Homo sapiens: one gene and its partners. The protein of the gene in region 1 interacts with the protein of each later gene in a biochemical or structural test. Each region holds a gene or a part of one and is shown in the gene's direction. Other genes may lie near its edges.

Region 1 (8,199 bases):
TATGAAAATCGATGAAGCAGTTCCCATCAATTTAAAAAGGAGTTCATACAGAAGTACAGAGATAGTACCACATGTGATAATTTTGTATAAATAAGACTTTTTAAAAAGTTTAATTTTCACACACTTTGAAATGAGAGGTGAAGAAAATCTTTTGTATTATACAGGTGTTTACTATTTATTTAGTGGCAAGCTTTTTTTTCATGATGACTGGTGGCTTCGAGTAGCATGTTACCTATCAGATTTTTTAAAAAAAATTAAAAAAAAATTTCCCTTCAAGGTAGATGTGATAACAATAACTAAGAAATTTAATACTTCCAAAAAACCTGTGCTAGGATGAGAGCATTTAGAAAACAGATATTTGAAAGTGTTTCAGTTTTGTGATTTTTTTCTGAAAAAACTTAAAATATAAATGTGTCACATATATAAATTTTCATATCTGCACACTTGAAAATCATGGGAACAGAGTTTCCCAATCTGCTTCAAAATCTTTCAGATAAATGGTTTTGCAACCATTTTGCTGAAAATTTCTAAATGTTATGTCTTCTAGTTTGATAGGAAAACTGATTGACATTAGGCAAGATGAATATTTGTTAGCCAAATTACTAGTTTGATAGGAAAACTGATTGACATTAGGGAAGATGGATATTTGTTAGCCAAATTACATTTCAAAAAGCTTTTGTATCACTGGGTGGACGAAATGGGAAAATGAGTTTTATGGTTTAGAAATGCGGCCAATACAGTAGTTCTTCCATTTTTAACTTTGCATTTTGTGAGGTCTCAGCTATTAAAACCCTATACCCACATAAACTCTTCTTAGAACTAGACTTTTAAATTTCAGTATCACAAAGTATATAACAAGAAATGTCGAGAATAATGAAGTATATTCAGCCCCATTGCTTTGTATTCGTGTCATTAGTAAAATAACATTAAAAATTACTTTTAACCATTTTTATTTTGTGTTTATGTTTTAAGTTCTAATTTAATTTAAAAAGTGAATATATATGTATTGCAGTGTATGTGCAAAAGTTCTTTTTTTAATGAACAGATGCACAAATAATTTTGATTGTTTATAATGACCTGTTAAGTAAGTCATTATTATAATCAACTGTTTATAATTTTGGTTTAGAATAGCCAACAAAATTTTTCTAAAATAGTTTTCCTAAAAAAATTCATGAGTAAAAATTTGTTTGGGAACAAGTAAAATGAGAAAACGGGAGAGAAAAATCACTCCAAATTCTACCATCTGTAGATAATAACTGTTGAAATTTTACTGCATACCCTTCTAGATTTCATTTTTTAACATATCTTCATCTTCCATAAACATAGGTTTATTCTTCATTTAAAACTGTTAGTCATAGAGAGTCTCTTTAAAGAATTATTTAAAAGGAAATTTATATGAGATTTTGGGACAGAGATTAAAATTTAAAGACACAATACTCAGGGGCTCTGTTCTGCTGTGACCAAGACATAATTAACACTGGATGGGATTGTAACATTTGTTAAATTTAATTCATTGCTTGTCGTGTAAATGGCCTTTAGATGTCTCAAATGTGCGGTTTAACTATGAAGTTACCAAGAAATAGTCTGACCAAATTTTGTGGCTTTTTACTTGCTTTATCTTCAAATGGCCTATGTACCAAGGCAGAGAGATTAAAGGGAACTAAGATTTTGATAAGGCTTTTGTTTCTGTTCAGTATTACAACTGTATCCCAAACCGATAAAATATGGTTTACATACTAGAATTATTACTAGAATTCTAGTTATATACTAGAATTATTAACTGCATGCAGGAGGGTAGAGAATAGAACCAAGGGAGTGACTATGAATGGAGTAATTGTATCCTCAGAATTAAGCAGTTATCTTCCAAAGGTATGGTCCTGGACTCGATCTTCTTATAGAACATTTTTTATCAATGACTAATACTACCAGAAAAAAAAAAACAGTCACTGACACAGCAAATGAAACCTAGCTGGGAAACGAAAACTAAGAAGAGGAAGTCACATTCTCAATGACCAGATTAGAATCAAAATAAAAATTGGAGAAGTAGTAAGAAGTAAACAAAATGAGTAAGTCATATGGGTCGGCTAAAAGATGCAAGGAAGAAAAAGAAGTTTCAAAAGGAGGAATAGCTAGCAATTGGCAAGTATCAAAGAAGAAAATTTAGGGGTTTTAACAAGTATCAATCTGACTATAAACAATAAAGTAGTGCTACTGTTTAAAAAGCAAACACATTATAAAATGTATTCCTTACTAAAATTTATCTAAACTTCTGCTTCCTAGTTGAGTGTCACTTGCAAACACTAATAACTTGTTCCTTTTCACCAGACCTGCCATTCACTCTAAGAGCAAATATGGAGAACCTAACCACTCAAACGACTGAAATAGTAACAGAGAAAAAACTAGTTTCGATGAAAGATTGAATGTAATTTTTTCTCCTGCAAGAAATAGAGTAATTGAATAATTGTCTTTAATAGCATACAGTTATAATGATTAAAATACTACTGGATTTAGGCACTTATGTACCTCAAGTAACTTAAAAGTAGATTAGTTGTACTCAACTTTCATAAAACACCGAGAGAAAATGAAGTTAAATTGTATTAGGAAGGAGTTAATGTAGAATATAGAGGGATTTTATAATATGATAAAAGATTTGTTGAAAATCAGAACAACTGTAAGAATCTGGTATAATTTCTACTGATAGATCTCTACTTTTCTTTAAGGGTGAAATGTGGTGATACATGGAGGGTTGAAATCCAACCCTCTGCCAGACCTCAAGTTTTGTGATTTTTGTTTTAGGCAGTAACTAGAATAAATAAATTGCACCAAGATTTTTAAAGCTATAACGGAGGGAGCACGCTTGTTGACATTAAAACTACTACTGGTAATGCCAGAAGACATTTCTTTAAAGTACTGTAATTGTGTTACATCCTTAAATCTAAGTGCAGTATCAGCCGCAGATATCTGATTGTAGACTTGGTTTAAAAAAAAAAAAAGAACTGGAATATATAGATAATTGGCAATATTCTAAGGAAGCAGTGTTCCTATTTTATTTTCCAGATGATGCTACTTTATGTTCCTTTTATTTTTCTTCTTACCACTTATTTTACAAATGACATATATTAACTATAGGATATTTAAAAAGTAGAGACAAGCAAACAAGAACAAAAAAGTGCACGTGTAATTCCACAAATGAGGGGAGAAAATCAGCTAACATTTTCATGTATATTTTCAGACTTTTTTCAACATACATGTACATATAAAATATTTTATAATGTATATTTTTAATTTCGTACATATTTAAACTTTTATTATAAAACAGGAAATTTGTAATATTTTGCTTGATTTAATATCATGAACATTATTTCCTATTACTAAGTCTACCTCTTCACTTTTAATCGTTGACATAATTTACATAATCCCTACCTTTGGTCATTTAAGTGTTTCCAAATGTTCACTCTTATTAACAACTTCAACAAATATCCCCAATATTGCTTTTTTTTTCTTTTTTAAAGTAAGCAGAGAATTGGAATAAATTAGAAATCCAGGGCACTTACTCATCCAACAGATATTTATTGAATACTTATTTGTGCCAGATATTGCATTAACTGGGAGCTGGGAAAACAGAACTGGTTAAGGCTAGATCTCCACTTTTAATTAACTTTCAGTCTCATGGAATAGAAAGATGAGCTGAGGAACTGGAGAGGACAAATCGCTCCTCTCTTTAAAGTAAATGTAGTTCAAGAGAAAGCTGCTGGGTCAGTGGCCAGGTGTGTGTGTGTGTGTGTGTGTGTGTGTGTGTGTGTGTGTGTGTGTGTGTGTGTGTGTGTGTGTGTGTACACATACGTATTAACTAAGCAGTTTCTAGAATTAAAATCCCTAATGTTAATAGGCTTATGCATAAAATAGATTAATCCACAACACCTGCATGAGCCACGATCCTAGGAGCTGCAGAGCCATAAAAGCCGGACACAGTACCCAGCAGCCTCGCCTCGGCTCCCGGCAGAGAACACCCTCTCCCCGGCCTCCCGGCGCTGGCGCGATCCCACCGCGGGGACCGCCGCCCTGGTCCCCGGCCGCTGCACCCCCTTCTCGCGTCCTACGCCTGGCGGCCAAAAACAAAACTGCCTAACCACTTCCACTTGGAGAAGCCCTCCTAGCCGAGAGGGGCATTCTGAAGATCAAGGGCGAGGCTGGAAAACAAACTTTGTTACGTGTTAACTTAGTTGGAGCAAAGCGATTCCAGGAAAGGAGTCTAAAACTGTGCGCAGCGTTTTTATAAAAAAATGTTTCAGTGGATACACGGGGGAGCGGGGCCGTCTATGGCAGGGCTTCAGAGCAAGCAGGAGACTGGCAGGCCGGCGAGAGCAGGTGGCCCGCCGGCCGCATCCCGGCCTCCTCCTCCCCGCTCGCCTGCATTTGGACGACGGCTTCCGCGGCGGCCGGAGGGGAGCATCCTCTACACTGCCAACTCGCATCAATGGGACTTTCCTCGTGGGAACTGCCCCTCCCGGCGGACGTGCCCTCCGGGTCCGGCGTGGGCGGGCGGGTGCCGCGAACTCCTTGCAGACCTTGGGTCGGCTCAGTGCTCCCTCAGCGCTGGGGCCGAGCCTGCACCACCCGCCGCCGTCGCCGCCGAGGGGGCGGGGGAGGTGCCGCGGGGGGCGGGCGCGGCGCGCGGGGAGGGGAAGGGGTTCTCGCGCGATTGGGCGAGGTTTCCGGTGTTGTGACTGAAACCCGTCAATATGGCGGCGATCGGCCGCGGCCGCTCTCTGAAGAACCTCCGAGTACGAGGTAAGCCCGCTGCAACCCTCACTCCCCACCGCCCGGCGCCCGCCACCCCTGGCACTTGCCTTCCCCTGGCCCTGGGTTGGGGAGCGAGCCGGGGCGCTGGCCGGAGCCAGGGCAGCCGCAGCTGGCCTGCGAGCCAATCCTAATTGGGGCTGTGTGTCTGTTTCGCGCAGGGCGGAATGACAGCGGCGAGGAGAACGTCCCGCTGGATCTGACCCGAGGTAACGCGGGGCGCCGCGGGCGCCGCGAGGGCGCGCTGCTGGGGAGGAGCCGGGTCCGGGGCTGGGGGCCAGAGGCAGGGGCGGGCCCCGCACGGGACCGGCGGGGTGCGGGGGCCAGAGCCGGAGCCCCGCCTGCCGGCCCGCGGGAACCGAGCCCGGGGCCGCCTCGCCGGACCCATCCCCCTACCCAGCGCCCGCTTCCCTCGCCCGAGCCCTTCTCCGGGCCTCGGGCTGCTGCGGGTGCGGGGGAGCCCCGAGTGGAACTCGGCAGACCCGGCGACCCTCTGGGCTCGAGCTCCGGCAGAGTGGTTTGCACCTATCCCGGAGTCCGGCAGCCCAAGCTAGGGGCAGCTGGAGGGAGGTAGAGGCTGTTATTTAGGTTGCAGGAGGATGTTTGAGGGAAGAGCGACCACATCCTGCCCTCCCCGTCCCCGGAGCAGAAGCCGGACCTGCTCGGTGCTTGCCGACTGCGTGACTGCTTTCCCCTTTGCCCACCGTCCTGTGGGGACCCGCAGCATTGATAACTTGGTAGTGAAACCTAGAACTGGTCATTACTGCTAAATGTCTGGTTTATGCTGTTTCCCTTCTGCTTCCCTTTCCCGGGCCGCTGGGACTGTAGTTGGCTAAAGACCGCCCCCTCACCCTGCTGCAGGTTCATTGTTTACCTTCTGCAGTGGAGATGGGTTTGTTTACACCTTCCGAACTGGGGAAACTCGGGTGATATTTTTAATGACCTAATCCCGTTACTAGCCAGTGTTTCCTCTATCACTTACAGTACTAGAGTTTATTCGACATTATCTCGTTGAAGATTTAGTAGTTACGTACAAGATTCTTTTCTCTTCCACGGTAAACAGGATTGAGCCTACTGATTCCGACGAAGTCATATTTCACACGGGCTGTAGCTTGGAGTGTAACCCGGTTCAGCTGTACAGAATCAGTTTCTGAGGTCTATAAAACACCTTAGGAAGTAAACAAAAAAACTTGTTGTAGACATTCTGTATGAGATCAGTTTTTTACCCTATGTCGTACCTGACGTAATGACTGTTATCTACAGTAATTTGTTAAAGCTGGGCTCCTTGTTGACAACGGCTAGAGTGAAAGCATAGTGCATTTTCTAATTTGTTTTATTTTGCTTATCACGATGTAAGATTACTGTTTTATAAACTGAATGGTCAGCTTTCACTTAGCTACAAGAGTACATTTTTATAACTTAATATTTTATTCTGAAAGTTCAGGGACTTAGTTTTGGGTGAACTAGGTCCTTTTACAAGACAGTTTCTAAAATATAATACAATATAGTAGAGCTTAAATCCTGAAAATGGCTACTAATTAGATTATCAATGCACTAATTTCCACCATTTTTTTCAGCAGATCGGTTTTGAGAATTAGTATAGAAAGATGTAAAGCTTTTGACTTCTGTGCAACTGTTTGGAAACTTGACTATAACACACATGTGAAAAATCTATATAAAATAGATTCACTAGAAAACTTCCTAACAAGGATAACTTCTACAATTTCAGGTCTGTAAAAGATGTAATTAGTGAGTGATTTAATTTATATACAGGCATATGTGTTTTAGATGAAGGTGAAGGGAGCCCTTAATAAACTTGAGTTTAACTTGTGCATTAAAAACCTGCTCAGATGTGGTGCTGGAAATATATAGTTGTATTTTAAATTGAGTTCGTCGAGCTCCTATATATAGTGGTTTCTCTGCTTGGTGTCAAAAATGTTGAGTTGTGGAAGAGCTTAGGTACACATCTGATTTGATAATTTTGGCTTACTCCAGTTTTACTGAGGCACACAGGTAACTGTTTACTATTTAAAATGCCATATTAACTGAGAATTTAGTAAGCACCTATGTCCATAGGTATTTCCAGGTTAATATAGATAGTGCAGAAAATGCTGTTTTCGGCTTGCCCTGACAAAATGTACTTCAGTTTGGAATAAAGTATACACAGCCATTTAAAACTGATTGCAAAAATAAAGAGTGAGGGATTGTTTGAGATCTGTATTTCTAAATCATAAGGAAGTTTGGAATTAATCTGAATCAGTCATTTTATAGTGATACTATTGTTTTAAAAAGTTGCTGTTGTGACAGACATTTCATTGTTCAAAGAAGGCTTGAAGAAAATTCATGAGGAATTAAAGTTTAGTAATAATTTGAGAACTGTGAGGCAGTTTGGGTTGCAGCTGAAGGGCAGCTGTTTGTGGATTAGATTACAGTATGTAAAAAGATAAAGTTTGGGCAACCAAAAATTTTTTTGTTTAATGCCAAGGCAGTGTTTGCTTTTATTCTTATTTTTTAAATTTAATCTTTGAGAGATTCATTGTGTAGTTACCTAATAAAGCTCATTATAAAATAGAGGACATGGTCATTGTAATCCCTAAAGGATCCATCAATGTGTAGTGAAAAGAGAGTTGACTATAAAGTCAAATCATTCTGGATTGTAACCTCAGCTGTGAGATTTAATAGTTGGGTGATTTGGGGCAAGTTATTTGACCTTGCTTTACCCCTGATTTCTTCATTTCTAAAATAAGAGATAACTTCAAAGGGTTAAGAATGTGAAAAGTAAATGAGCTAGTTCTTAATTAAAGTACTTGGCATAAGACCGGATACTTTGTAAGTGATATTTAACATTAGTTGCCTTCCTACATTGTGAAATCACAGTTTTAAAACTCACATTAAAAATACTTTAAACGGTTGTTTTGAATATTATAAACTTGTTAATAAGGAATTATGGTATTCGAGCTTCTTTTTTTTTTGAAACATACTGTTATACTAATTGGGTATAGTCTATCTGAGTTAGAGTTCTTGAATATAACAATTGTAAAGCAATCTGTGACATTACCAATAAATTAAGTCTAAGCGAAGTGCAGTATGTTATATTCACTTAGGATAAAATGTGATACTGTATTTCATAGAACCTTAGAATTTTTGTCTCTGACACCAGGACATTTCATACTATTTAATAATGACTTGGCTAGCCTTGCAAGCTTCTTGAGGCTCAGAAGAATTCTAAGTTTCGTTGGTTTTGGTACTTGTGTTAGTGCTGTGGTTCATACATAGAGTGCCTCAGTTAAAAATTGTTGATGGATTAATTTTTATCTAGTTTAGGAACTTCATTATAGTAGACTTTACAGTCAGCGTATTGGTAATGGTTGCTCTGAGTTTTGTTCAGACAACTACTTA
Region 2 (7,098 bases), on another chromosome or scaffold:
CCAGGGTAGGCAGGAACGTGTTCAAAGAGGAGGAGACTCCGGACAGGGGCTGGCATGGGAGTGGGGGTAGGGAGGAGTGGGGGAAAGTGTTCTAGGGCAAAGAAGCATTGAGAAGATGTGAGGGGGACGCCTGGTTGTGGGAGAGGGAATCGCCAGAGAAGTAGAGAGTGTGTTTGGCGGGGTTAGGGTCCCTCCCAGGCAGATGGAGCCTTTTCCCAGGGGCACAACCTGGGCTGCCCTTGACTGAGCAGGTTTGAAGGTACTCTAGACCACCGGATCATCTTCACAACAGTCCCATTAACTAGACGCTCTTATTTTCATACCTTTTTGGTGAGAGAGTTTAGGTAAGGTACCCAGAGCCATGTATCAGGCAGTAAGTCACTGAACCACGATTTGAATTCAGCCGGTCTCATTCTTCTCTGCCTTGGAGTCCGGGAAATGGAGAATGTAGTGGAGGAGTCACCCCAGTCAAGGCCAAGCAGTGGGGTGGGGGTGGTGCTGGAAGAGGGGCTGGATCACAAAGGACAGGACCCGGCCAGGTATGTGTGTGCAGGAGGAGTGGAGCCCACAGTGGGATCTGAAGTCTGGGAAGGAAGGCCTCGTTGTTATACTAAAATATCATTCCTTGTTTCACCGGATGGACTGCATCTTTATTTCCTAAACCTGGCAACTGCAGCTTGGACCCCTGGAATGACACTGCACTTACAGCCACTGAGACTAGCTTAGGGACGGCAGAGGCCTGGCTCCCACTGCCGCCGGCCATCCACCCTAAGGACCCCTTCCTGAGGAAGGTCAACTCCCCTCTCTCCACGCATTTAAATAATCATCTGCCTTGCCCCAGCCACCAGCAGGAATAGCTGAATTCAAGTAAGTTAAGGGTGAACTCAGATGTGACTGCTCCCTTCCTGCCCTGCCTGGATCACAGCCCTGCCCCGGCCCCTCCCAACCTTGAGCACGACCAAACCTTTAACCTCTTTGAACCTCAGTAATCCTCATCTGCAAAATGGGAGTCAGAGTGCATCCCGGGGTCTTCGTGAACATTAACGACAGGGCCTGGCACTCAGCAAGCTCTCAGGCTCTGGAATGTTCTTCCCCAAAGAACCCTTCACTGGTTTCTCTTCATCCCTGTCTCTGCTGAAAGTCCACTCCTTAGTCAGGGTGGCCATTCCTGCCCACCTTCGCTAAGTTCCCTCGCAGTCCCTTCTGCTGCATACCCTCCTTTCCAGCCCATTCCGGGTGTCCTGTGATTGTGGGATATTCCAGCACCTTCTGAAAGGGAAGGGGCTGTTTGGTCACTTGGTGCTTAAAAGTTGGCAGGACGCAAGTGGGTGTTCAGTAAATGTTTGTTGAGTGAATGTGTGACGGTTGCTTCTGTGAGTGATTACGATGGTCCCACCATCCCTAATCCTGACTCCTCTGTGGCAACATTCCAGCCCTGCCTGCCCACACCCCCAGCCCCTGAACCTTCAGAGCAAGTAGGGGTGGCCTGCCACACTGGGGCTCTGGGCAACAGGCTGACAGCTCCCCACTGCAGGCTGGGAGCAAGCACCCTAGCCTGCCCTGCCTGGCTGGCGGGACAGAGAGAGCCTGGACACTTAATGGGGGTTGTGGTACACAGGGAGGGTCAGGATGCTGCCTTCAGGAGCCTAGGGTAGGACCTGGAAGGAGGGCCCAGCTAGGAATGGGCTAGATGAAGGGGAGGGGACAGTGGGAGAGAAGCTCCTTATCCCTCTCAGGTCGGGATGTCTGGGTTCAAGTCCCTCCTGCCCCACACCGATCAGGGAAGGGGGGCTGTTCCAGGCAGAGACCGCCCAGAGTTGGTGCTGGGATCCTGGCCAGCCTGTAGTCCTCAGAGCCCCTGTGACTGGCTGGGTCTCAAGTGCAGGAATGACAGGACACCGTCACACAGCCACTGTCGCGGCGGTGGTGGTTCAGGCAGAACCTCTGCAGACTCAGGCGGCCATCTGGCCTGGGAGCTGCCCTGAGGCCCCGCCCTGCAGCTGCTGCTGGGACCTACACAGCCCAGGGCCCTCGAGTCCTGCCCCCGGCCAGCAGCTGCAGAAGGTGACAGGGCAGGAGGCCCCTGAGCTCTGGGAGGAGGCAGCCGTCGGGCCCTTCCCTGGTGCAGCAGTTTTTGTCGGAAACATCTGGCCACAGAGCACCTCAGCAGTCCCAGCAGCAGCCGTGGGGCTGGGTTCTCTCCTGACCATTCTGTCTGGGGTGGGAGGGGGTGTTCTTGAAGAGAGGACTCTGCTTTCCCTCTGGGACGCTGGAGGAGAGGGAGATGGCCCTGCCCACTGGGAGATCCCCGTCTTGGGGGAGGGCAGTTCATGCCAAGGTGAAGACAGGACTGGAGTGTGGGGCCCACAGTGGGTTGCAGGCACCAGCAGATGCCAGGGCACCAGGCTGGGAAGACTGGGAGGCCTCCTTGGAGACAGCCAGTGCAAAATAAGCAAGAGGTCCAACCACTTCAAGAACAGCCCGCAATGTCACTGCCTCTTCCATGAGAGGGTGCCCTGCTCCCTCCCACATCCCCAAGCCTCGGCCACTTGCTGGCCTTGTCTCATGGCCCTCTTACCCTCTGCTTCCTCCCTGAATTCCTTCCTCCATCCTTGCATGGCAGAGCCCAGGATGGTGGACAGATACCAGGAACTCTTCCTCGGGGAGCAGTGGGCAGGTGGGACAGTCCCAGAGGGAGCCCCAGGTGGCTCATGGTGCAGGTTTGCTGGGTGAGAGACAGACACCAGACGCCCAGGCTCTGGGGGCAACCCTTGTGTCAGGTATCCCACCCAAGCGGCGCAGACCACTGGGCCTCTGACTTGGCCCCCTGGAGGTGGGCCCTTCCTGGGGTTACAAAGTCTGAGCTGGGAGGGAGCAGAGGTGCTCAGGCGAGAGGCAGGAATGGGGAGTCCCCTGTCTGAGGAGCGAGTGCCCTCATGCAGGGGGAGAGAGTCCTTCTCTTGGTCAGCCCCAAGAGGCAGGGATGAAGCCCGAGTTTTGGCTGCAGACTCTGTCCTGAGCACTGGGCCGAACCTGCTGCCTCTGTCTGCATCTCCTCCCACCCCCTCCCCTGCTGCCAGCTGAACTCACTCTGGCTGAAAATAAAAATGCTCCCCCAACCCCAATACTTAGCAGCCTCAGGAAGGTAACTCACAAGAGTCTGTCTTTCACAAAAGGGTTATTATCAACTGTGGGCCTCTGGAATGGGGGAGGGGCAGTTGTCGGAGGAACTTCTGGCTAGGAAGGGGTCGGGGTGGCAGTCACCTGCACTCTCCTGTGAGTGTCCAGGAGAAAGGGGTCTGTGTCCCACTTACTCATTCCATACCCGGGCCATCTGCCTCCCAGTGGACTTCGGACTGGGTGTCCGGGCTGACCAAGTCCACCCAGCAGGGAGGGCTCTGGGCTGTCAGCTGTCACAGCCCACCCTAGACACCGCTCCTCCTCTGTCTGGTGTCTGCTCCCAGCTCAAGGTGGGAGCCAGGCAAGGTGTGCCCCTCTTCTCCCACTCCCCAGCAAAGTCCCCCTTTTGTGAGTGTAGCTGCCAGTACCTAGGTGAATGGTTGACTCCCCTCGGAGCCTTCCTGCTCCTTGGAGGCCCACCTCCAACTGACCTCCTGTCCTGGCATCCTCCCGCACTTCCCCCAGAGGCACAAGGTCTTGGGATTGGGCCTTTTAGGTCACTCTTGGCCGCCCCCTCCACGCCCCCCAGAGTGGGGCAGCCTGAAAGTCAACCTAAGCCACCCCCGCCCCGCGCGCGGAGGCAGAAGTCCGGGATTCGTCCCTGACCTGTCTCGGGCCCCTTCTGCTAGGGTCACGGCAGAGCGAGCCCAGAAGCGCCGGGTCACTTTACAGACGGGGAAACTGAGGCCAGAGAGGGCGTGGCCCCGGGACGGGCTGGCTGGTGGCCGGGCTCCGTTAGCGGCCCAGCCCAGGCCCCAGGTCGTCGGGAGCTGCCCCTCAGCCCGGCCGCGCGCTCCCCGAGCGCGCTCCGCCCTCGCCGCCGGCCGCGCGGTGGGGACGCCCCGGGCGGCGGAGGCGGATGTGGGCGGGCGGCTCCGGGCGCGGGGCGGGCGCGGGGCGGGGAGAGGGCGGGCCGGCGGCGGCGGCAGGACCGAGCGCGGCAGGCGGCTGGCCCAGCGCACGCAGCGCGGCCCGAAGACGGGAGCAGGCGGCCGAGCACCGAGCGCTGGGCACCGGGCACCGAGCGGCGGCGGCACGCGAGGCCCGGCCCCGAGCAGCGCCCCCGCCCGCCGCGGCCTCCAGCCCGGCCCCGCCCAGCGCCGGCCCGCGGGGATGCGGAGCGGCGGGCGCCGGAGGCCGCGGCCCGGCTAGGCCCGCGCTCGCGCCCGGACGCGGCGGCCCGGTGAGTCCCCGCCCGCCGTGGCCGCCCGGGCCTGGATTTCCTCCCCGCGGGCCGGGCCGCTTTGTTCGCGGCCGGTCGGGCCGGGGCGCGAGCCGCGGCGCCGCCAGAATGGAGGAGCGGGAGCAGGAAGTGGCCGAGCGGGCCTGGGCGGGGAGGGCGCGGGGCGCGCGGGCCCGGCCAAGGGAGGGCGGCCCCACGCCGGGCGCCGGGGGTGCAGGCTGCCGGCCCCAGCCTCCCTCATGACCTTGGGGAGGCCGCTCCGCCGGGCGAGGCCGGGACCCGAGAGAAGGGACGCCGCCGGGCCTGGAGCTGGGGCTCGGGGTGCCCCTGCGGGCCGTGGGGCTCCCCGGGCGCTGGGCCAGCGAGGCAGCCGGCGGAGGTGCCCCGGGGTTGGAGAAAGACTCGCCGCGGCCGGCCTTCAAGTTTGTGGGAGGGCCCCGGAAGGAGACTTCGTTTCCCACGGACGAAAAGTTGTACGTGGTGGCGGGGTACCCAGGCTAGCCACAAAGGACTGTGACCCTCCTGGGCCCCGGAACTGCTTCCTGTCTTGGGTGGGCCCTGGAGGTCCTGCCCGCCCATCCCAGAGGCCAAGGCTTGGAGGGCAGCTGGGGCTTGCCCCTTAGATTGAGTATCCTGGGGCGCTAGCGAGCTTGGTCCTGTCGGGACGGCCTCTGAGTGCTGCCTTGGTCAGCGGGTGAGCTTGGGCCCCTGCTCTGCAGCCAGAGGCCGCCCCACATTCACTCCTGGGTCTCTCGGCCTTGCTCCAGGTGGCCACTTCTTGACTGCTTTGAGTCCCTCATCCGAGCGAAGGGCGGACGGAGTCCGTTGGTGGGGGTCCGGTTGCCTCTCCCGGGAGCTGTGTAGACTTCTCATACACCAGGGTTCTGGAGGCAGATGGAGGAGCCCTTTCGAAAACAGAGTATTTTTTTTTAAGTTGTGACTTAATAATAGTAGCAAGAATATGTGCTTATGGTAAAGGCAGGCGGCAGGTACGGAGGCTGTGGGAAGTCGGGGTCCCTCCGCCCCCACAGGCAGCCCTGTGCTGGCCTGGTGTATACGTTTCTGTGCAGACGTACACCACCCTGTGTGAGCACAGATGTATTTTTACACATGGCTCTGGACAGCTGTCTGACTCTGTCAGCAGCAGGCCTTGGAGGGGCTCAGGCCCGTGTGGGGGTGGGGGGACATCCAGAGGTCTTTGAGTCCAGCCCTCTGCCTCCAGGCCACGCCCACTCAGTGTCGTCAGAGCCCCCTGTGCCTGAGGCGTGCGCGGCTCGGAGCCCTGCCCTCGGAGTCCTGCGGTGCCTTCCTCGAGTCTGGCCTGCTTTCCATCCTGCTAAGTACTTGGGGCATTTCCCTCTTTGGGTAAGGTGTGGTCTTCCCTGTCCTGGCATTAGACACAAGGCAGTGGGCCTTCCTGCCATTCTAAGTGTAGCTTAAGACAATCAGTGCAAAGCAACCCTTTGTGGGTGTCCAGCCCTTGCCTCGGGAGGCCAGAAAGGTGGCCTGGGGGGAGAGCGTCTAAGCTGGCTGTGGAAAGACCCATGTTGGGATCCATTCCACAGAGGTCGTCAGGGGTCTCTGCCTGGCCTGGAGGTCCCAGAGAGGACCCTCCTCCCCTCAGGAAGGCCCATCTGGAAGGGTAGCAGAGGACTGCTCACAGGAAGAGCATGCGAAGTGCTCTTTCTGGGGATGCCTGTAGTTGGTGATGTGGGAACTGGGTTTTGAGGGATGCCTAGGAGTTCATCCATCAGAGGGGAAATGAGGAAGCCATGCAGGATCAATGGATAAAGTGTGCTCAGGTGAGGGTTGGCTGGTGGGCCGCTGCAGGGCGGGGGCCTGTCCAGTGCTCCCCCACTTACTTGCTGCCTCCCGACTGCTGTAATTATGGGTCTGTAACCACCCTGGACTGGGTGCTCCTCACTGACGGACTTGTCTGAACCTCTCTTTGTCTCCAGCGCCCAGCACTGGGCCTGGCAAAACCTGAGACGCCCGGTACATGTTGGCCAAATGAATGAACCAGATTCAGACCGGCAGGGGCGCTGTGGTTTAGGAGGGGCCTGGGGTTTCTCCCAGGAGGTTTTTGGGCTTGCGCTGGAGGGCTCTGGACTCCCGTTTGCGCCAGTGGCCTGCATCCTGGTCCTGTCTTCCTCATGTTTGAATTTCTTTGCTTTCCTAGTCTGGGGAGCAGGGAGGAGCCCTGTGCCCTGTCCCAGGATCCATGGGTAGGAACACCATGGACAGGGAGAGCAAACGGGGCCATCTGTCACCAGGGGCTTAGGGAAGGCCGAGCCAGCCTGGGTCAAAGAAGTCAAAGGGGCTGCCTGGAGGAGGCAGCCTGTCAGCTGGTGCATCAGGTTAGGGAGGCTGGGAAGGCCTTTTGGGGATGGGGGTGATTTGTCCAACGGCTGGGGGAGGTGGGAATGGGGAGGTGAGCAAGGCAGCAGCTCTCAGGGCCTGGCTGTTGCGGGTGGTGGTGGCAGGGGCTGGAGGCTCTAAGCCTAGAATAAGGAGAGGCCCAGGTCCAGGGAACTGTGTTCAATTACATGGATTTGACACTTGGCAGCCCTGAGTGTTTTGGGGAGAGGGAAGGCAGGCGGGCAGATGGGGGTCAGAGAGCTTAGAGGGATGGCAGCCCACCTGGGAAGGCAGGTGCGGGTGGAGCCCCCAGGCACGTGCAGTGGGTCTCTGGCTCACCCAGGGCGAGGAGCTGCCCTTAGCCAGGCGTGGCCTCA
Region 3 (8,473 bases), on another chromosome or scaffold:
GTTTGGAAAATGAAAATACAGTTAAATTGCTAATGAACCCTTGTCAAAATCAAATGTCTCCCCTTAGAGGCTGATGATTGTCTAGTCTAATATGCATTTTTTTTGAGTGGGTCAATTGGACTCTAAGACCAACAAGATAAAAAGGCAGCCTTGCATGTCACTTGGACCACAGCTGTCTGGCCATGCAGCATGCCTTCACTGCTGCTGAAGAAAAGCAGCTGCTTGTTGAGAATCTCAAATTCTCAGATCCTAATTGCCTGGCCCTGACTCTAAGCTGAAACCTGCTACTGTCTGCCTTGAGCTGTTTTAGCCTCAACACGAGCTATGCTGAACTGAAAGCAGGCACAGGCTCAATGACCAGGACTCAGACGTTGGGGCCGTTGGAGATTAAGGACCCCCTCCGTGGAGCGCTAAACTATGAAAACGTCCTGGAACCTGGCTGAAAAGGGCTTATTCTCTAATGGGACCATCTAAGATCAAGCTGCTGATAGGCTCTTTGTCTCTAATACAGAGGCTAATTGCATTCCTAACTTCTAATATTTGCCAAACGCTCCAAGCTGGGGAAGGGCACATCGCAAGGACTATGACCTCTCCTCCTGCTTTTGACAGACCAGACTCAAACCTTCTCTGGGGCTTCTCTCACTGCTGTTGACTTGTTGCATTCAGCTTTTGGGATTAGTTGCAGCTTGCAACAGTGGACTGACAGCCTGACTCTACTTCCCTCACTTTTCTCCCAGCACACACAGCTTAGTAAGGTAGGTGGATTATTAAAACGTAGCTGTCCCCAGAAAGGTATTAGGCTTTTCTAGTCTGCTCATTGAATAATCAGGACAAAAGGGGTAGAAGATTATGTAAACACATTTTGAAATTTTTAAAAATTCAGGGTTTCATCCTTTATTAGTTTGCTAAGGATACCATAACAAAGTACCACAAACTGAGTGACTTACACAATAGAAACTTATTTTCCTGCAGTTCTGGAGGCTGAAAGTCCAGGACAAGGTGTCGACAGCTTTAGATTCTTCTGAGGCCTCTCTGCTTGGCTTGCAGATGGCTGCCTTCTTACTGTGTCCTTGTATGGTCCCTCTGTCTGGGTGTCTGTGTCCTAATCTTCTCTTTTAATAAGGATACCACTCAGGTTGGATTAGGGCCCATCCTAACAATCCCATTTTAACTTAGTTACCTCTTCAGGGCCTATCTTCAAATATACTCACATTTTGAGGTACAGGTAGATGGTTAGGGCTTCAGCATGAATTTTTGTGGGGACATAATTCAACCCTCCACACATAATTACCAATTTCTGAATGTCTTTCTGGTTAAGTTGCATAAAAACGTTTATCTACTTGAACTCTAGGATGATAGTTAAAAAAAAAAATGTTGGCCAGGCGCAGTGATGGATGCATATGATCCCAGCACTTTGGGAGGCCGAGGTGGGCAGATTGCTTGAGTTCAGGAGTTCAAGACCAGCCTGGCAACATGGTGAAATCCTGTGTCTACAAAAAATGCAAAAATTAGCTGGACATGATGGCATGTGCCTTTGGTTCCAGCTACTTAGGAGGCTGAGGTAGGAGGATGGCTTGAGCCCAGGAGGCGGAGGTTGCAGTGAGCCAAAATCGTGCCACCGCACTCTAGCCTGGGCAACAGAGCCAGACCATATCTCAAAAAAAAAAAAAAAAAAGTTTATCTACAAAAATGCTTTTGTGCCTCTTACATACAACCCTTCCAGAGGAAAGGCCTAGCTGAGAGTAAGAGATGGTTGAAAAAATGCAATGTTATGATTGCTGAACAGGGCACGACTGTTTTTGTAATATTGGAGAAAATAATTAAAGCCTGGCACCTGGGGAGGCTTGATCCCTGGAAGCCTCCTCTTGCTGAAGGAAAATTCCCAGTGCTGCCTTTCCATGTGCTGTGAGTGCTTTGAGTTCAGACTGACAACAGAGTGGGTCTAGCTTCTATGCTTTCCATGAAGATCTCCCACAAATGTCATCCATGCTCATGAGATGGATCAACTTGTATCCTGAACAAGCAAAACTGTTTGGGACTCACTGCCTTCAGGCAGTCCCTTGGAAGCCAAGGACTCTGGGAACTTTTCAGATGGGACTGGAAACACTTGGGCAGGAGTTCCCCTGGTAGGAGGTCTGTTCACCTGTACAGCCTAATGGATGTCCTGCTTGAGGTGCCCTAATATTGCAAATTCTTTGTTTACAGGGGTACCACCTGTGCCCCTGGGACTGTGCTTCTGTACATGACCACAACTCTCATGATGTCCCCTCAGCCCTGGAAAGCATTTGGGTTAGCTTCCGCTTACTGGTCAGAGTTATACTGTGCCTGAATTGATGCCTCAGGTCAGGTTGAAAAAAAAAAAAAAGGTTCAGACAGCAATTAAGGGCTGGGCACGGTGGCTCATGCCTGTAATCCCGGCACTTTGGGAGGCTGAGGTGGGCAGATCACCTGAGGTCAGGAGTTTGAGACCAGCCTGACCGACATGGTGAAAAGTAAAAATACAAAAATAAAAAAATTAGCTGGGTGTGGTGGTGTGCACCTGTAGTCCCTACAAAAATAAAAAAATTAGCTGGGTGTGGTGGTGTGCACCTGTAGTCCCAGCTACTCGGGAGGCTGAGGCAGGAGAATCGCTTGAACCCAGGAGGTGGAGGCTGCAGTGAGCCAAGATCACGCCACTGCACTCCAGCCTGGGTGACAGAGCAAGACTCCATCTCAACAACAACAACAAAAAGGAATTAAGGAGGAAGCCACCTGGCTTCCTAAGATAGACTTTATGGTTAATGGGATTTATTTTAGCTGGTTAAGTCCAGGACCCCTACCAGGAAGAACTGAGGTCCATATTTGAGGTTGGTCTCACCCTTTTGCATGTGGTCCTACTAATAATAATTTTGCTGTAAAGAAGCCTCAATAAGGAGATGGACTGTGTGAAAAGAGATGAGAAAGCAGGCCTGTTTGCAAGGCTGGCCCTTGGCTGGCATCTGAAAGCTTGGATTTCAGGAGGGTTCTCATTACTCCCTAAATGATAAGAGTGGCTCACTGTGCCTAAACTGTTCGTACAAACAATGTGGGTTATGCCCAACATCTGCTTTCCTTCTGGGAGTCAGATTTTCATATGTGTTAGGCAGAGGATGAGGTGAGCAGCTCCCAATGAGAACCCTGAACACTGAGTCTGTAATGAGCTTCCCTTGTATACAACATTGCACATGGGTTGTCACAACTGATTGCTGGAGGAATTGTGTCCTATGTGACTCTGCTGGGAGAGGACTGTGGGAGGCTTACACCTGGTTTCCCTGGACTTTGTCCATGCGCTTTTTTCCTTTGCTGATTTTGCTTCCTAGCCTTTCGCTGTAGTAAAACATAGCCATGAGTATGACTACAGGCTGAGTCTGTGAATCTCCTAGTACATCATCAGACTAGGAGGTGGTGGTGTTGGCACCCCCCAGCACAGGGCACAAGGGAGACTTGCAGGGTGTTTGTCATGTTCCCTTTCTCAATCTGGGTGTGGTTTACAGATTTGTTCAGTTTGTGAAAATTCACTGAGCTCTATGAACAATTATAATATGTACATTTTTTTCTGTAAGTGTATTAAATTTCAATAAAAAGAATTCACACTATAGGGGTACAAAATAACTTAATTTTTCAAAGTCTTCCTTTTATTCAGCCAACATTTTAGTAAGTACCCTTTTTTTTTTACCAAGCACTGCTCTGGGAGCTTGGGACATGGGGTAGAAAGGACGGCATCATTGTCCTCATTGTCCTTCAGCTTAGCTGCAAGGCAGGTGAAGGATGCTTATAGTATGGTTGATTTTTGCTGGGCTCTATGAAGGATCAGAGGGTGCTAAGGAGGCACAGAGAAAGAGCTTTTAACGTGGGTATTTTACTGTTCCAGGGTTGCCACTCAAGTACCTACAGAACAAACGGGTGTAGCTGTAAACTGTGGCAAACTGAAAGCATGTAGGCACAGAGTAAGTAGCTAGAGCTGATTTTTTTCAGGAAAGGCCACAAATCCCAACTTTTATGAGCTCCTCTTTTAAATGCTGTAAATGTTTTACAATGGCGGGGCGCGGTGGCTCACGCCTGTAATCCCAGCATTTGGGAGGCCGAGGGGCAGATCACTTGAGGTCAGGAGTTCAAGACCAGCCTGGCCAACATGGTGAAACCTCTTCTCTACTAAAATTACAAAAATTAGCCGGGCATGGTGGTGCATGCTTGTAATTCCAGCTGCTAGGGAGGCCGAGGCGGGAGGATTGCTTGAACCCGGGAAGCAGAGGTTGCAGTGAGCTGAGATCGTGCCACTGCACTCCAGCCTGGGCGACAGAGCAAGATTCCGTCACACACACAAAAAAAAGGCGTGGGGGGAGGCCAAACAAAACCCCGCAAGACACATTTGGCTATGACCTGCCAGTTTGCTAGGCATTCTTCCAACCTTCCCTCCCTCTGACCAAGAAACTGAGTGTCCACTATTTTAGGCCCTGGGAAATTCAGTAGCGAGGAGGCCAGACAGCTTCGTTGCATCATGGGGGGCTCTGGTACTGTGCTTCTCCAACTTCAGGATGTGTAGGAATCACCTGAGCAGTCTTGTTGAGAGGCGGACACTGACTCGGGAGGTCTGGGGTAGGGCCTGAACGTTTGCCTTTGCGGTTCTAACAAGCTCTCAGGTGATGGCGATGCTACTGTTCCCTGGCCCCGAGGTAGAGGAAGATTTAAGTAAAAGCTTCCTGGAGGAGGCGCAAGTGAACCGCAGGAGCTTTCCCGGACGCCCGAGAAAGGGAGAAACCCCGAAGGAATTCCTCCTCTCTCGGGGCTGGGTCTCCGCATCCACGCCGGGTTTGGTTTCCCAGGCTATCCCACGTGTTCGGGCGTCCGTGTCAATCAGGTTTTCCCCGGCTGGGTCCGGGTTTAAAGGCTGCTGCTGCGCAGGGCGCTCCCATGGTGCCGCGCGGCGGGCGGGTTTGGATTTTAAATCCCCGCGGCCAATCAGTGGCGCGCAGGCTTTTGTAACGTTCCCAGCGCCGCGTTTGAATTCGGGGAGGAGCGGAGCGGTGCGGAGGCTCTGCTCGGATCGAGGTCTGCAGCGCAGCTTCGGGAGCATGAGTGCTGCAGTGACTGCAGGGAAGCTGGCACGGGCACCGGCCGACCCTGGGAAAGCCGGGGTCCCCGGAGTTGCAGCTCCCGGAGCTCCGGCGGCGGCTCCACCGGCGAAAGAGATCCCGGAGGTCCTAGTGGACCCACGCAGCCGGCGGCGCTATGTGCGGGGCCGCTTTTTGGGCAAGGGCGGCTTTGCCAAGTGCTTCGAGATCTCGGACGCGGACACCAAGGAGGTGTTCGCGGGCAAGATTGTGCCTAAGTCTCTGCTGCTCAAGCCGCACCAGAGGGAGAAGATGTCCATGGAAATATCCATTCACCGCAGCCTCGCCCACCAGCACGTCGTAGGATTCCACGGCTTTTTCGAGGACAACGACTTCGTGTTCGTGGTGTTGGAGCTCTGCCGCCGGAGGGTGAGTGTCGCTGCTGGGGAACTGGAACTGCCTGCGGGGCAGTTGGAGCGCCCAGACCTGGAGCTGCTGGAAAGAGTACCCAGCAAGGGAGAGCCTGGGACTTGGAGCTGCTAGAGAAGGGTGCTGGGAGCCTCCCGCTTACGTATGGAAAGTGTCTTTGGTAAGGGCTTCTTGGCTCTGGGAGCTGCTAGAGGAGGGGGTTCCAGTGAAGTGGAGTCTGAGTCATGTTGCTGATAGGGAAGTCAGCTTCTGGACGCGAGGTGCTGGGGGGAGGGGTGCTGGTAATGGACGCTAGGGCCCTGGAGTACCCAGGGAGGAGTCCCAGGTTAGTGATGCCGCGCCCTGGGAGCTTCTGGGGTGGAGCTGGGTCAGTGGGGGGGTAGTTGGAGCCAGACTTCGGGCCTTCCGGGGGAGATACGAGTCAGGAAAGGGATCTGGTGCTGGGGACTCGGAGCTTCCGGAGTGGGGCTGAGAGAGGACCCCCAGGTAAGGGGGGAAGCTAGTAGGAGAAGGGGTGCTGCGAATGGTTGTGGACAGTGTTAAGGCAGGGTCCAGATGCCGCTGTGCTGGAGAAGGAATGGGGTGGGGGCATAGGGAAGGAGAGAAACCCACCAAGACCCCTCTTTCATCCCTTGGGAGTCCAGAGTCCAGTCCTGTGCTTCCTTTGCCTGGTAACCCTCTCCCTTCCCCACCGGCCTCAATCCACCTCCCCATCCCTCCTGCCCTCTCCTTCCCACCCACAGTCTCTCCTGGAGCTGCACAAGAGGAGGAAAGCCCTGACTGAGCCTGAGGCCCGATACTACCTACGGCAAATTGTGCTTGGCTGCCAGTACCTGCACCGAAACCGAGTTATTCATCGAGACCTCAAGCTGGGCAACCTTTTCCTGAATGAAGATCTGGAGGTGAAAATAGGTGAGTTGCTGAGCCTGCAGGGGTGCTTGACATCACTACAAGAGGCTGGAATTTGGAGGAGGCTGGGAGAAAGGAAGGAGACAACCCACAAGTCAGTATCTTGCCTACAGATGCATTATTTTTTTGTGCCCCAATGCAATATTTTTTTTTTACAAAGAATTTGAATTTGTTTTTATTTTTTAAATTGGAAGGTTTGATTGAACAAAAAGTTTGATTCAGAACTCCTTTTAAACAGGTGAAAGCTTCAGTAATACGAGGACAGCATTTTCTTAGGGCAGCCCTTTGCTGGGCTGGAAAACAGCTGTCCCCTTCAGACTTCTTTGCCACAGTCTCTACTCCTCCCTATTCTTCACAGACTTGCCAAGTCTTGGAGGTTAACTTGCTTGATCCTTGAAGGCATTGGAGTTTTACTATCCCTGTCAGTTCCTGTTTCAAAGCATAGCCCCTTTCTAAAAGGAGGGGTGAGAAGTGTCACTGGAGGCACCTCCCTGGTGTCAGCATGGGAGGAAGATTCCTGGGCAAGCCTTGCTACATACAAGGAGCAGAGGCTTGTGGGATCAGATGGCCCTGGTTCTGGATGGTCAAACCTTAACTAGCCTTCTGCATTGACAGATGTCAGAGGCTGGCATCTAAGTACCAACTCTTCCTCCCTCTGTCCCAGGGGATTTTGGACTGGCAACCAAAGTCGAATATGACGGGGAGAGGAAGAAGACCCTGTGTGGGACTCCTAATTACATAGCTCCCGAGGTGCTGAGCAAGAAAGGGCACAGTTTCGAGGTGGATGTGTGGTCCATTGGGTGTATCATGTAAGTTGGGAGTTGTCTCTGGACCAACCTGGTCTCAGCAGGGGCAACTTTGGGACATCCTACCTGGCTGACCTTTTCTGTGGACCTTTCGGCCTGCTTTACAGAAAGCCTACTCCAAGGGACAAGTCATCCCCAAACAAAGCCTAATTGTCATATCTTTCCCTGTCACTGGTGTATCCTGTCGGATTTCTGCAGCCTAGGTCATGGGTACAGCGGAGGAGGAGGAGGGAGAGTCTCCACAACCTTACTGTAGTCCTTTGCTAGAGTTGTCCACAGGGCAGCATCACCATCATCTGGGAACTTGTATACACAATCTCAGGACCCAGACTACTTACTGGATCAGAATCTGGATTTTTAACAAGGTCCCTTGGTGATTCCCTTGCACAATAAGGTCTTAAACACCGATGAGCATTAGCATGGTGGGGGAAATTAGGCCAGGAGTTACAGATGGAAAGATGATGTGCCAGTGGTCTGTCTGGATTAAGACCATCAGCAGCGGTTGGTGGCAGGCAGAGGCTTGGGCCTTTTCAGGTGTTATCTTTCTTGTTTTGGGCCTAGGTACTGGAGAGTTAGAAATGAGTTGTAGCAATGGCTTTCATACGTCTTTGCAGTGGGGTTTTTTCAAATGAAAACTTGAAGACTTAAGTACAGAACTGCTAAAGGTGGAGCTGCTTCTGTAAGCGCAGGTAGCCCTTTGACCTGTTTTGCATGACAGGCAGCATCTGAGGCCCTTGCACAGAGTCCTAGATGACCACAGGCTATAGCTAAAAAATCACTGGCCCTTAAGAATCCTGGTCTCACCATGTGTATTCTGCTGAGGGCTTATTCTAGCCAATGTCATGGCTTCTGGGGCTGCTCAGTGGACTTAGGGATTGTCTTCAGGGGCCCCAGAGTTAGAGTGAGTGTCCAGAGGATGCCTGACCTTTGTTCTGACCCTGAGATGATTTCTCTCATGTCTGGGTTGTGGCTGGGAGACTGGTGCCAAATCCTACCTTGTGCTTACAGGTATACCTTGTTAGTGGGCAAACCACCTTTTGAGACTTCTTGCCTAAAAGAGACCTACCTCCGGATCAAGAAGAATGAATACAGTATTCCCAAGGTGACTAATGATGCTTTAAGTTTACATTTATTTTGTTTTCCCCAGAAGCTGTTTATGGAGCCCAGCAATATCCTAGGACCAGAAATAGGTCTATCCCACCTCTAAGGTAGCCACAGAGCTTGAGAGGGCCTGTGTCTGAAATTGCATACAGAACTTGA
Region 4 (7,858 bases), on another chromosome or scaffold:
AGAACACTGACCTTGAGATAAACAGAAGGTTTAAATTATACTCTCTTCGTCCATGAAGTTTCTCTCTCCTCCAGTCAAGAGTCTGATTCTTTACTCCATGCAGACCCAGTTTCTCAGTGTATCTTTTTGGTAAGAAAACTGAGAAAGTCTTCTCTTTTGAAAGATGATGTCAATAGTCAGGCATCTGTTTTTGAATGTCATTTTGAATTATACTTTTTCTGAAGGATATTAACAGGAAGAATGGTGATGCTACTAACAGGGTTATTGATGTCTTGATAGAGCAGTGATTACAGATTTTCTCAGTCCACATGAGTTTTCCTAGACCACTGTATCAATCACCTTGGAGGCTGACATCTCAGAAGAATATTCTAAAGATCACACTTTGGAAATACGTTTACATTCAGCAGCATGCTCTACTAGAAAGAACTATAAACTTAAAAATCAGGAGACCTGGTTTCTGGCCCAAAGTTACTGATTATTCATGATTTGGGGTGCCTCTCTGAGCTTTTCATTTGTGTTTTAAATAAAAGCCCATCTTAGCAGGCTTGTAATGTGAGATGTTAGTAAAATTAAAAGTTATAAAGCACATTGTAAAATTTTCTTCTTTTGAGTTATTAAAGAATGAAGCGAATAGTACATATGGTTAATGACAGTTTAGCTAATTCATATAGAAATAGCTAATTAATACAGAAGTGACACAAAACTTGTGAAAGGAAGATTGAGTGCCAGTAATCCATAGCATTTCACCTGTTCTTTTCTGAGAATCTGTTACTTTATTGACTGCTTAAGGATTCTGATTTGTTTAGAATAGGAAGTATTTAATTAATTTCTACTATCTATTCCAGTTGTATATGTATCAGCTGTTCCGAAGTTTAGCCTATATCCATTCCTTTGGAATCTGCCATCGGGATATTAAACCGCAGAACCTCTTGTTGGATCCTGATACTGCTGTATTAAAACTCTGTGACTTTGGAAGGTAAGCTACTGTCCCTCTCCCTGCCCCTTCCCTTTTCCCCTCCTCCCCCTACTATCTTCTTTTAAATATATTCCTTTTGCAATATCAGCCTAAACACAGTAATTCTTATTCAAGAAGTATAAACTAGTGCAGCTGTGAGAGTAGTTTTGTTAGTTTCTGTCAAAATTATAAATGTATATACTCCTTCATTTAACAGTTTAACTTTTAGGAATTATTTCCTTAGGAATACATATTTACAATACAGTGTATATATAGGGATTTTTATTATAGCATTGTTTATAAGCATCCATTAGTAGGAAAATGGCTAAATAAATTACGGTACATGCAGAGTAATACATGCAACCATGAAAAAGAATGAGGCAACTCTCTGTGAACTGAAAGGGAATGATGTCTAGGAAACATTAAATGAAGAAAGCAAGATCAAGAGTATATGTATTGTATGCCACCTTTTATGTTTTAAAAACATACAGAATGTGACTATATATATATATATGTACACACACACATATATACACAAGTACATGTGTGGCTTATTTCTGAAATGGTACGTAATCCATAATATTTGATTGCCTGAGAAAGGATCTTTGGGAATATAATGTAGTTGGGAAACTCACTTTTTCATTGATTGTATTTTAGTATTGTTTGAATTTACATTAGGTATATATACTCCTTTTTCAGTAAGAACTAAATTTTTTCAAAATATTGATTATTATACATTCCTGTGTATCTTTTTAACTTCACAATTAACCTCAATTCAGGGATGAGATAAAAAACAATGCAGTGTTTTCTTCATTTTCCTCTATAATTTAACCTTTTATTCCACCCTTTTTCCTGCAAATTTCATCAAACTTTCTGCTTTTAAAAGCTCATTTCTTGGTAATATACTGTGAATTTGTAATACAACTTTATTCTTTCCATTTTCAGTTTTCAGTACTTTGTGCCTCTCTGATCTAACCTTTTAACATGTAGTCAAGCCTACATTCCCATGTAACTCAGGCAGTTACCCCGCTACTTCCTCACTGGTGTAATCACCTAATCTCTCTCCTCATGGTCCCTAAGACATCTTTACATAATTTGGATTCTCTCCAATTTAATTTTTTCACCCTTGTTACAGATTCTTTTCACCATAGCTCTATAGATAACATATTGCCCCACACTTGTTAATACCTGTGTTCCTATCCCTTTGTAATACTTTTACATCAATTCACAGTTTAAATTTGGGGTTTAACATAGGATATGTTTTCCACAGGCTTCTCTTGAGACAGATCCTTTAAAAAATAAGTAAATCTGTTCTGTCATGAGTTAATTTTTCTTAGTCTCACAATGTGTCCTCTTTCAGACTGTCCTCATTTTACTGTTTTCTAATTTCAGATGACCTATCACTTTGCAGGCCATGACTCTGTTCCCTGAACTATTTTTAAAAAGGGTGAAAGATAGTAAAACTCTTACCTGGTGTTTGAAACAAAGCACTACTACTTGTCTATAGGAAAAACTGCCCAAATCAGATATGTTTTATTGTTAATGGGGTGTCTTCACCATTGAGAGTGACTGACTTGGTAGGGACAGACTGAGACACCAAGGTTAGAAGAGCTTCTGTTCTCATATAGTGTCAAAACACTTGGTACAGCCCATTCTCTTGGGACATAAAATAGCTTTATTCTGATAAATTTGGAAGAGGGATTTCGCTTGTTTGATAGCTCATTTTTATAAACCCTCTGATTTTTTTGTTTTTAACAAAATTGGTTTGGTCAGATGGAGTTTGGGAAACACTTTGGACTGTACATTATCAGATTGGTAATTTGAACAAAATACTATTACTTTCTTCTTATTTTTTTACTAGATGAAAAGGGGCCAAAAAGTAGCTAAAGAACTAGTTGGGCTATTTAGGAACAAAAAGCTAGATGTGATCACAATATTGGGAAGTAGTTAAAACCAGTCTCCTCTGTAAGAGAGGCTGCTCCGTTTTTGTAGCTCCATCAGGTAGTGAAAAAACTTCAGGCTACAAAGCTTGGGTATTAACGTTTTGTCTCGTAATGAATTTTCTGAACATAATTAGCATCTATCTTGTTAATTAAAAAGCATCCTTTAGAAGATATAACAGTCTCCTATCAATTATGCTGAAAACTAAATGTCATAATTTTCATGCAGCCTAAAAACAGGGATTAGTATTTATTAATTTATGAAATGGTTATTGTATGTCAGTACTTGGGGAGAGGGTTAAAAAACAAACTTCAAAACTAGTGATGAAGGAAAAAGAAGTTAAGGTTAGAGTCATCATTGACTAGAAATAAATGGAAGAAAAGAAATCCCAGTCATTGAAATCCTTGTGACTACTTTCATCTGTCTTTACCCTGGTTTTCCAGTACCTTTACTTTTTTTTTTTGGCACTTACTGTTTTACTGTTTTGATTTTGTTGCATTTTGTCCCTTTATTTATCTTTATTATTAATGTATGTCAGAATGGCTGGCTTCTACAGCAGTTTATTTTATTCTGTCTTTGGATTATCTTGGGCGACATCTCAAAAGAAATTAATTGTAATTTATTATACTTCATATTTAAAATACATGCAATGAAGTATTTTAGTAGGAAAATTGGAATAAGAAAACATGCAATTATACTTACTATAGCAGAGTTAGAATTTATAGGCAGTGAATCATTTCTGCCCTGAAGTTGAAGGGCCTGTTTATAATTTATTGGGTAATAAATGTTTATGTGGTTAATAAATTGACCAAGATATGGAAAAATAGATTGAGTCTATAAGCCTTGAAATATTCGCCGTGAGTCAGAAGTCAAAATGCAAGACAGTGGCCAGTTTCTCACCCTTTTTAAAGAAATACATTGGGTGAGGAGTATTCATTCTTAGAATCCATTGTCATGCTTTTTGGTGGGGGAGGTACCTCTTTTCTGCCCTTGCTTCTTTGTATTTTAGAGGTGGAATTTGGGGAACAGAGGATCAGAAGAAATTCAACACTTATCCTTTTTTGCTTTTGGTGCCTTCTTAGGTGACAAACGCTTTCTTTAAAAATTGCTATTCTTTTTTGCAGAGCAAGGTGATAAAATTGTAAATTTCTTTTATTAGAGATAGTTACAGTTTACATTTTCTTTTTCATATATGATTCAAATGATGTGAATCTTATAAAATCATTTGATACTGTGAAAGGATAGCAGTCTAAGTTCTTTAAGGTTTAGATTTAAAGAATTTCTGCTTTTTATTTTTATTTTTTTTCTGTTAGTGCAAAGCAGCTGGTCCGAGGAGAACCCAATGTTTCGTATATCTGTTCTCGGTACTATAGGGCACCAGAGTTGATCTTTGGAGCCACTGATTATACCTCTAGTATAGGTAAGTACAAATCTGAATATAATGCTCATAATTATTAATTGCTTCTTGATTTTGGTAATTTAGTACTACTAATCTGTACTTTTATTTCCATGGAAAGATGGATATATCCCATAATGTTTTTTTTCTTAAAGCTTGAGATGCAAACATGTATAGGCATACCTCATTTTATTATACTTTCCAGGCACTGCTTTTTTTTTTTTAACCTCTCAAAGGTTTGTGTCAACCCTGAGTCAAGCAAGTCTGCCCACACTAGTTTTATAAGAGCATGTGCTCACTTCATGTCTTTGTGTCATCATGTCTTTGTGTCACATTTTGGTAATTATTGCAACATTTCAAACATTCTCATTGTATCTGCTATGGTGATCTATGATCAGTGGTCTTTGATGTTACTATTGTAATTGTTTTGGTTTGCCACAAACCACAACAATATAAGACAGCAAACTTAATCGATCGGTGTTGTGTATGTTATGAATATTCCACCAGCTGGCCATTCCCCATCTCTCTTCCTATCCTCAGGCCTCCCTATTCCCTGAGAGACAACAATATTGAAATTAGGCCAATTAATAACTCTGCAGTTGCCTCTAAGTGTTCAAGTGAAAGGTACATTTTTCACTTTTAATCAAAAGCTAGAAATGATTAAGCTGAGCAAGGAAGGCATATCGAAATTGTGCCACACAGTTAGCCAAGTTGTGACCAGAAAGGAAAAGTTCTTAAAGGAAATTAAAGTGCTACTCCAATGAACAGATGAATGATAAGAAAGTGAAACAGCCTTATTGCTGTTACAGGGAAAGTTTTAGTGGTTTGGATAGATCAAACCAACCACAACATTCACTTGAGCCAAAGCCTAACCCAGCAAGGCCTGAACTCCCTTCAATTCTGTGAAGACAGAGAGGTGAGGAAGCTACACAAGAAAAATCTGAAGGTAGCAGAGGTTATTTCATGAGGATTAAGGGTAAAAAGCTGCACCATGCCATAAAAGTGCAAGGCAAGCAGCAAGTGCTGATGTAGAAGCTGCAGCAAGTTATCCAGAAGATCTAACTAAGATCATCGATGAAGGTGGCTACATTAAACATCAGAGTTTTAATGGAGACCAAATAGCCTTCTACTGAATTGGAAGAAGATACCGTTTAGGACTTTCATCTCTAGATTTTCTAGAGATGGAAGACTTCTTCTAGAGAGGAGAAGTGTCATTGCCTGGCTTCAAAGCTTCTAAGGACAGGTTGACTCTCTTGTGAGGGCCTAATGTAGCTGGTGACTTTTAAGTGCAAGCCACTGCTCATTTACCATTCCAGAAATCCTAGGGCCCTTAAGAATGATGCTGAATGTATTCTGCCTGTGCTGCATAAATGGAGCAACAATGAGTGGATGATAGCACATCTGTTTATAGCATGGTTCACTGAATATTTGAAGCCCACTGCTGAGACCTACTACTCCAGAGAAGAGTATTTCTTTCAAAATATTACTGCTTATGGACAGTGCAACTGGTCACCCAAAGGTTGAGAAATACATTTGTAAGGCTATAGCTGCCCTAGATAGTGATTAGTCTGATGGATCTGGGCAAAGTCAATTTTAAATCTTCTGGAAAGGATTCACCATTCTAGGTGTCACTAAGAACATTTGTGACTCAATCACATGAACAACATTTTGGAAGAAGTTGATTCCAAGCCTCATGGGTGACCTTGAGGCATTCTAGACTTCAGTGAAGGAAGTCTCTGCAGATGTTGTGGAACTAGCAAGAGAACTAGAATTAGAAGTGGAGCCTGAAGATGTGACTGAACTGCTGCAATCTCATGATGAAACATAAACAAGTTGCTTCTTTTATGGATGAGCAAAGAAAGTGGTTTCTTGAGGTGGAATCTACTAGTGGTTAAGACGCTGTGAATATTGTTGAAATGACAACAAAGGATTTAGAATATTACATAATTGTAGTTGATAAAGCAGCAGCAGGGGTTGAGAGGACTGACTCCCATTTTGAAAGTGGTTCTAATGTGGGTAAAATGCTATCAAAGAGCATCTCCTACTAGAGAAAAATCTTTCATGAAGGGAAGAGTCAGTTGATGTGGCAAACTTCATTGTCACTTTAAGAAATTACTCCAGCCACATCGTATAGCCTTCAGCAACTGCCACCCTGATCAGTCAGCAGCCATCGACATCAAGGCAAGACCCTCTGCCAGCAAAAAGATTACAACTCACTGAAGGCTTAGATGATCATTAGCATTTTTTTTTAGTAATAAAGTGTGTTTAAGTTAATGTATTACATTTATGTTTTTATACAATTCTATTATACAAGTAATAGACTACAGTATAGAGTGAACATACCTTTTATATGCACTGGGATACCAGAAAATTGGTGAGACTTGCTTTATTGTGTCTTATTGTTATGGTCTGGAACCAGTTCTGCAACATCTCTGACGTATGCCTGTATAGAATTTTTCAAATTCTACTTTTTAGAATTTAAGGTATACCTACTATTCTATTTTTCTTCCTTGGACTGTTAGAATCATAAAGCTAATAGCTTTTACCTTAAGAATTTAAATTAATTCTAAGTAACTTTTTTTTACTTTCTTATTTAAAATCCTCCTGAAATACTTCTGAGCATGATTATACTAGTTGGATAATTTATTAATTAATGTTATTTCATTAAGTTAATAATGAAAGTGATAGTATGGCCATATTGCTAACATTTCCTTCATGCCATCTCCATTATTTAATATAAAATCAGCTTAAATCACTAGTAGTTTTGCTAGATGCACTGATTCTGCAGAAGTATGCACCCAAGATGTTTAGTCATAGAAGGAACTGAATAGAGACCATTAGCTTTAATCATCATTGACCTTCTCAAGTCTTCACCCCAGATGTTTAGTGATAGGAGGAACTGAATAGAGACCATTAGCTTTAATCATCATTGACCTTCTCAAGTCTTCACCCCAGATGTTTAGTGATAGGAGGAACTGAATAGAGACCATTAGCTTTAATCATCATTGACCTTCTCAAGTCTTCACCCAAGATGTTTAGTGATAGAAGGAACTGAATAGAGACCATTAGCTTTAATCATCATTGACCTTCTCAAGTCGTCACCCAAGATGTTTAGTGATAGAAGGAACTGAATAGAGACCATTAGCTTTAATCATTATTGACCTTCTCTTTTACTACATCTTAGCCCACTAGCCAGGAGTGAACAGAGAGAGCATGATCAGCTGGACATGAATAGGAAGCTAACAAACAAGGAGCAACTTTAAGCTGGATGTGCAAGTGGAAACCAAAATTATTTTACTCTTACATATTGTTTCTGAAGAGAATTCCTTTAGTCCAGAAACAAACAAAAGCATGCAAATAATAAACCAAAAACATCCCCACAGTAACAGAAAACCAAAACAAACAAAAAACAGACCTGGCCTGGTGCAGTGGCTCACACCTGTAATCCCAGCACTTTGGGAGGCTGAGGTGGGCAGATCACTTGAACTCAGGAGTTCGAGACCAGCCTGGGCAACATGGTGAAAACCTGTCACTACCAAAAATTAGCCGGGCGTGGTGACATGCCC

The links.
Region 2: of the proteins of RICTOR (region 1) and AKT1, one has a biochemical effect on the other in vitro, tested with the Homo sapiens proteins (7 studies listed by BioGRID, with this or other methods).
Region 3: of the proteins of RICTOR (region 1) and PLK1, one has a biochemical effect on the other in vitro, tested with the Homo sapiens proteins (one study listed by BioGRID).
Region 4: of the proteins of RICTOR (region 1) and GSK3B, one has a biochemical effect on the other in vitro, tested with the Homo sapiens proteins (2 studies listed by BioGRID).

The regions. Positions count from the first base shown.
Region 1 is NC_000005.10:39,070,921-39,079,119, reverse strand, and holds the start of RICTOR (rapamycin-insensitive companion of mTOR), read left to right. Parts: upstream 1-4,720; 5' UTR 4,721-4,742; coding exon 4,743-4,791; intron 4,792-4,961; coding exon 4,962-5,009; intron 5,010-8,199. UniProt on the Homo sapiens protein: Component of the mechanistic target of rapamycin complex 2 (mTORC2), which transduces signals from growth factors to pathways involved in proliferation, cytoskeletal organization, lipogenesis and anabolic output.
Region 2 is NC_000014.9:104,792,749-104,799,846, reverse strand, and holds the start of AKT1 (RAC-alpha serine/threonine-protein kinase), read left to right. Parts: upstream 1-4,098; 5' UTR 4,099-4,363; intron 4,364-4,639; exon of another isoform or gene 4,640-6,542; 5' UTR 6,543-6,720; intron 6,721-7,098. UniProt on the Homo sapiens protein: AKT1 is one of 3 closely related serine/threonine-protein kinases (AKT1, AKT2 and AKT3) called the AKT kinase, and which regulate many processes including metabolism, proliferation, cell survival, growth and angiogenesis.
Region 3 is NC_000016.10:23,673,843-23,682,315, forward strand, and holds the start of PLK1 (serine/threonine-protein kinase PLK1), read left to right. Parts: upstream 1-5,046; 5' UTR 5,047-5,090; coding exon 5,091-5,498; intron 5,499-6,241; coding exon 6,242-6,410; intron 6,411-7,071; coding exon 7,072-7,216; intron 7,217-8,221; coding exon 8,222-8,315; intron 8,316-8,473. UniProt on the Homo sapiens protein: Serine/threonine-protein kinase that performs several important functions throughout M phase of the cell cycle, including the regulation of centrosome maturation and spindle assembly, the removal of cohesins from chromosome arms, the inactivation of anaphase-promoting complex/cyclosome (APC/C) inhibitors, and the regulation of mitotic exit and cytokinesis.
Region 4 is NC_000003.12:119,909,162-119,917,019, reverse strand, and holds part of GSK3B (glycogen synthase kinase-3 beta), read left to right. Parts: intron 1-845; coding exon 846-976; intron 977-4,209; coding exon 4,210-4,316; intron 4,317-7,858. UniProt on the Homo sapiens protein: Constitutively active protein kinase that acts as a negative regulator in the hormonal control of glucose homeostasis, Wnt signaling and regulation of transcription factors and microtubules, by phosphorylating and inactivating glycogen synthase (GYS1 or GYS2), EIF2B, CTNNB1/beta-catenin, APC, AXIN1, DPYSL2/CRMP2, JUN, NFATC1/NFATC, MAPT/TAU and MACF1.